Regions from separate parts of the Homo sapiens genome. Here region 1 is linked to region 2. Evidence: fine-mapped expression QTL. A gene starts in region 2. The other region holds a variant in brackets. All regions are shown on one strand. Distances are between the middles of the regions. Region 1 overlaps F5 (coagulation factor V). Region 2 holds the start of SLC19A2 (solute carrier family 19 member 2).

Evidence for each region. PIP is the estimated chance that this variant, and not a neighbour inherited with it, causes the effect.
Region 1: its variant is the best candidate, but not a certain one, in a credible set for the expression of SLC19A2 in fibroblasts (GTEx, PIP 0.52).

Annotation. Positions count from the first base shown.
Region 1 is chr1:169,510,374-169,513,289 of GRCh38, forward strand. F5 (coagulation factor V) reads right to left here. Exons shown (of 25, transcript NM_000130.5): 25 at 1,578-2,916. Among named protein-coding and RNA genes, the nearest start is that of SLC19A2, 26 kb to the left of the region's middle. RefSeq lists a silencer at 365-565. The variant A/T (reference allele first, on the strand shown) is at 1,565.
Region 2 is chr1:169,484,201-169,487,116 of GRCh38, forward strand. It overlaps SLC19A2 (solute carrier family 19 member 2), which reads right to left and starts at 1,744. Exons shown (of 6, transcript NM_006996.3): 1 at 1,363-1,744. The coding sequence starts at 1,566. RefSeq lists enhancers at 1,149-1,208, 1,751-2,045, 1,849-2,098, 1,881-2,801, 2,109-2,178 and a silencer at 1,389-1,568.

The DNA of each region.
Region 1 (2,916 bases), 26 kb after region 2:
TCCTCATGGGCGTCTTCTATAATATTTCCAAAGGTGACCCACTTTTAATCTGGTCACTACCATCTGTAATTCACGATTTGGAGATTAGGGATATGTATTGTATCTGTTTTTGTGTCTTTCCCCACCCTCACATCATCAGTTCTACCCAGGTAATTCTTATTTGTTTTGACCTTGCACATACACTGGATTTATGGGCATGGTACAGGAGATGGAGGGAGGTGGATAAGTCATTATTAGACTATATAGAGAGGGTAGGGAAAATGAGTAGGTATGTCAGAGAAAGCTTAACTGGGCCCTGAATTTGAGCATAAAGCTCTTATTTATCCTGGTTTTTATTGATCCTTATCCCAGTCCTCTCTTCTCTGGAGTTCTGCACAGGTTGCCTTCATACACATCTAATATCAGATGACCTAGGTTAAATCATCTCCAAAAGTTTTCACAGTCTGATTCCATCCCACAAGGCTACTCATCTAATTGTCTTTTTCTTTACTACTCAGGGTGTAATCTGTTAGGCTTAATAGGCTCATAGTGTCTATTTGCTTCTTATGTTTGTCTTCTCTATGCAACTAGATGATGTATTTGAATAAGCCAGAGAAGTGTCTTTTATTTCCTTTATATACTCTCCCCTACAATGCCTGTCATAGTGGTTTGCTGTGTCGATAGAATGAGCTTAATACTTTTTAAAAAATTAAAATGATGGTACATGTAGAGAGGTTAATATCAAGTTTTCTTTACATGTACCAAATGCAAAATACATGTATATGTTTTGGTGGGGACAGTTCATACAAGCCAGAGATAATAAAATCTTAAAGCTCTGTAGTCTCTCCCAACAATTTAAGTACTTGGATATGAAAAACCTTGTTATCTGGGCATTGACCATGTAAATATTATTCCACACATAATCATTTTGTCTTTGTCTACAGCTTTCCCTATCTCTAGGCTATGAGAATATATGAACTTGGGAGAATTAGGCATTCAGAATTTTCCATAAAATACTTCTCCATTAGGAAATATAAAACAAGAAAAATGCTAACATGGAGCTATCAGATATTTTTAAGTATGTGTTAGGCCCACTGCATTGGGGCATGTGCCAATATTTCGTAAAACCAAAATTCACTGCCTAGTAAATTGTTCCTTCCTGGTCTGTCCAGAGAAGTAAATGGTGAAATATTCATGGCTCTTGGGAACATCCAAGCTATTTGGCAAGAGCTTTTCCCTGGGTTTGCCAAAATGGCCCTGAACTCAAAATATGGTGTTTATTCAAAATGATTATAAAAATGGCATGAAGTTTGTTATTTCTTTTAATAACTTGAAAGAATTCTGGAGAAATAATTTCATGTTTCTTCTAGTCCTTTCATATTTTTGATACATTCACAGCTATTCTTTTCCAAATTGCAATTAGAATGACTAATAATGTTTAGAATTTTATCTGTTGGTTTCTCTTAAGTCATGATTCTACCGTGAGTCATTTAACTTCTTTCCAAAGCACCCAGTTGTAACAAACAGTGGTTTATGTCACTGGAGACGTACTATGTAGTCAAACTTGTAATTTCATCTAAGTGAG[A/T]TCAGAGAGAGAAATAAAAAGTGGGTATCTTTTTTATTTCAAAATAACAGGGGTTTTAATATTTCTACACAGCATTAGATAATAGCCCAAACATATTATTGATCCCCAAACAAGTATTTTCCAGATCAATTAATAGTCATTATCAATTAATATTCATGTCTACCTGTCTGAGCAATGGATTAGAAACATTATAAGTTTCATTTTATGGAAGAGAAAGCAGACTAAAAGTCTAGGGATATGATCATTTGGTTTCTGGTTTCAGTTCTGACACTAACAAGCAATATCCTTGGGCAAGTTGTTTAATCTTTGGGGCCTTATTTTTCTCAAGTAGAGAATAACGAAGCTGGATCTCATGCTCCATTCCCATCTCTTCCCTACCCCCCATTATTTCATAAGATTTTCTTGCCCCTATTATGCCTTAGTAAATTCTAGATCAAGAGAGATCCTGCCCAATTTCAGAGTAGAGAAGCCCAGGACTAGCTGCGTAATTTGTGGGGCTCATTGAAAAATGGAAATGTCGAATTCCTTCTTAAAAAATAAAGGATTTCAAGAGGGTAACTGCAAAGCATTAAATTTAGCATGCGGTCCTTCTGAGCATGTGACCCTTTGCAACTGAACAGATCACACACATCCAAGAAGCTGGCCCTGTAGAAAACAAAGAAATGTTTTCCCCCACCTTCCAACATTCTCTTTTGCTCTTAACGGAATGGAAATCTTAGAAATGTTGATGGGACAATGACATGAATCATGAAAAGAAAGGAATAGTGGGAATACGAATATTAGAAAGCCAATGTTTTGTGGATGTTTGAAACTCTCATATACATTCATAGGGCTTACCCCACTGGTATGGGCAACAGGTAACTCTGGTAGTTTCTAAAGATGCTCCCAGTGAATTATGCCTCCTGGTATGTGGTCCTTATGCAGTTCCCTTCTACACTGAATCGAGACTGGCCTGTAATTTGTGTTCACAACGAATAGAATGCAGCAAAAGCAAAGCCCTGTCTCCTAGAGATTCTGGTATGTTGTCTCTTTGTTCTCATTGGTTTTAAGGAACTTATTTATTTCTGCCTTAATTTCATTATTTACCCAGTAGTCATTCAGGAGCAGGTTGTTCAGTTTCCATGTAGTTGTGTGGTTTCGAGTGAGTTTCTTAGTCCTCAGTTCTAATTTGATTTCTCTGTGGTCTGAGAGATTGTTATGAATTTCGTTGATAAAATTTTATATATTTATGGTATACATAACATTTTGATATATGTACACGTTACAGGATGATTAAATCAAGCTAAGTAACAAATCCATAATCTCACATAAATTTTTTTTGGTTGCTCTTTTAACACTAAGTTTTGGGGTGG
Region 2 (2,916 bases):
CTGATTCTTAATTCTCTCTCAAGTGCCCTTGAAAATGACGGAGCATTGCAACAAACAAACTGCAAACAACAAACTATGAGTAACTATATCTCGCCAGTGTGCAAATGATTCCGGTAGTGCCATCTCTTGTTCTGACCTGTTATGCAGGGTTACTGAGTGGCTACTCAAAAGAAGTGACTGACTACTACCCACATAGAGAAGAGTAAGGTTTAAATGGGAGGAGTATTTTACAGCACCTGGGGCAAGGAGGCAGGGTGGAAGGAACAGGTGTAGGAAAAAAGAAAAAGCTCTCAAGTGGCCCCTTGACTGATAGTAGGAAAAAGAACATGAGACCTCAGCTTTCACCCTTTGTTGTATTCAAGGAAGAGGGTGTTGAATCGGCTTTATTTCGGTTTTGTGGAAGTACTTTGGGTTTAATTTCTTTCTCAGTTTATATATTGTCTTTCTTCTGCAAAAATCAAGTGCTGGTTTTGACCATGCACTTAAATAGGTCAGCACATTTCTAAAGTACACTATGCGCTTCTGAAGTACTTTATTTGTAAGCCCTCATCTAGGGAAAAAATCAATCAGCAAGAAACTCTTGATGATGGACTACGTGCTCTCAATTACCCTGAACATCACAGAAGGCCTTCAAAGACATCACCTTGTATCTGAGAAGCAAAACTAACATCTGTGAAGCAACAATTCGCAATACAAGAAACACTATAATTAAAAGTCAATTATGTTTCACCATCTGCCTTTATCCCTGGAGGTTGGTCTTAAGGTAGAGAGGGGCAGGATATCCTTGGACACAACCTCACCCAATTAAAAATCAAGACAAATTAAGATGTTCTGTACTTCTGTCCTGTCCTTACTTGATTAAGCCCACCCATTCTGCCAAATGCAAACAAAGTAAGGTATGGACAGGAAGCAGGTGAAGGAGGTAGAGGGAAGATCCTTTCAGAAAAGCAGTGGTTGCCTACTTTCAGTCAATGAATATTTACTAAGCCGTGTCCAAAGTACACTTTGCTGTTTTCACTTCTTTGTCAAAATATTGCCCCCTCGCCCCCAGCAGGAACTGCTGGACCAGTCTGGGCAGTCACGCTAAGCCACATTACAACACGATCAGCATACTGCCTGACGCACAAGGCACGGGGCCTCTGGACGCGTGTTCTGAGCCCTTCGCAGGAGACTCGTCCTACAGAGCCGAAGAAAACAGAAAATCATGAACACAAAGAAGAGCACGAAGCCGACCTCCAACTGGCAAAATCAGAAATCTCTGCCGAGAATGGCTCGAGCGCTTTTCTCGGTCCTCTCTTCCTCCGCTGCCCACCCGCAGGCCGGTCGCCCGCCCTTCCCGCGCCCCGCGTCCGCCGCGCGTACCTCCCTCTCGGTCAGGTTCTTGTCCGGCCCCAGCAGGTACGGGGTCAGGAAGGGCTCGGACGGCCTGAGGCTGGCGAAGAAGCCGTAGGCGCAGAGCAGCGCGGTCGGCAAGAACCAGCATTCGCGACGGACCCGAGCGGTCCGCAGGAGCACAGTGGCCGCCGCCGCCGCCGCCCGCCGAGACACCGGGCCGGGCACATCCATCCGGGGCGCGAGGGGAGGGGACCCGGCCCGGCCCCTTCCTTCTCCTCCTCCGCCAACTGGAGTGAGGGTCAGGCACTTGTAACCGCGAGTGACGCCTTCTCCCTGTAAGGCCAGGACGTTCTGGACTCGCCGCCGCCTCCGGCTACAGAACCCCCAGCTTTACCCTACAGACGCCTCTAGGGTCGCTGCCTGATCGCCCAGTTTAAGGGAGACCCGTCCTAAGGCCCACCCTCTGCCACCGCCTCCACTCCGGGAACCAATCACAGCGGACGCCGGGAATACTTGCCTGCTCTTCCATTGGTCGTGGGTCACACGACGTGAACTGGGGCGGTGGCAGCACGCCAGGCCTCTGACGTCCCAGGGCTCAAGCGCGGAGGACATGTGGAACTCCACTCCAAAAGCGGCGGCTTGCGGCGGAGCTCTCTCTAGTGAGGCGGCCAGCTGGCGTTCGTGGCACACTTGCTGTCGGCTCCGCTCATCTGTTGGGAATGCGTCCTGTGGGCCTAGTCCTCCGCTGGAAGAAACGCGCTGTTCTCCCCAACCACCGTTTATCATTCTTATTCACCGTCTCCGGAATGTCCATTCAGTTTCCGCTCCTGAGAGACTTAGTGACTGAGGCCAGGCAAAGATTTCACCTTGGGGAGGGGGAACGTTAAACCTTTCCTCCAGCAGCTTTCGTGTTTTAAATTGTATTCATCCGCCATGGAAAGACATCAGAAGCCCAGGATCTAAGAGACAGACTGAAATGAAGAAAGTAGATAATATTGTGAGAATAATGAACAAGCTGGTCACTGAACAGCAGAACCGTAATGGAGTCCCAGTTAAAGGGTTTTAACTTTATTTCGTCACTTTTTGCAAGCATGATACAAAGAAAACAAACACCTAACTACGCTACGGTTTATAGTTAAAAGGAAGGTGGAAGATCCTGAGTCATTACAGCAATCACAAAACATGATGGATTTCTTCATTTAAAAACACAAAAGAGGTCTTGGCATAGTTTTCAAGGGCAAAGCATGACAAGACTCTCCAGTGCTTTCTTTCATCCCCCTCTGTGTGCCTTTTTCTGCCTGACTCACAGCCTGGCTCAATCCTAATCTTTCTACTGCAAAGATGCAGCATTTAAAGCAATTTTTCCTGTGCAGTATTTGTAGAATGACAGATCCTGCCAGAAGCTCTTGGAAACATTTTGGAACTATCTTGCTTTTCTGTATGTTATGATCCATCTAGCACCGTTTTCCTCCTGTGGTAGCAAATGACACTTTTTTCAAGCATCAGCAGCAGAAATGAGTCTACCAGATGGAATAAGATACTGGTAAAGGGAAAGATTTGTTTCTAAGACTGCACAAATGA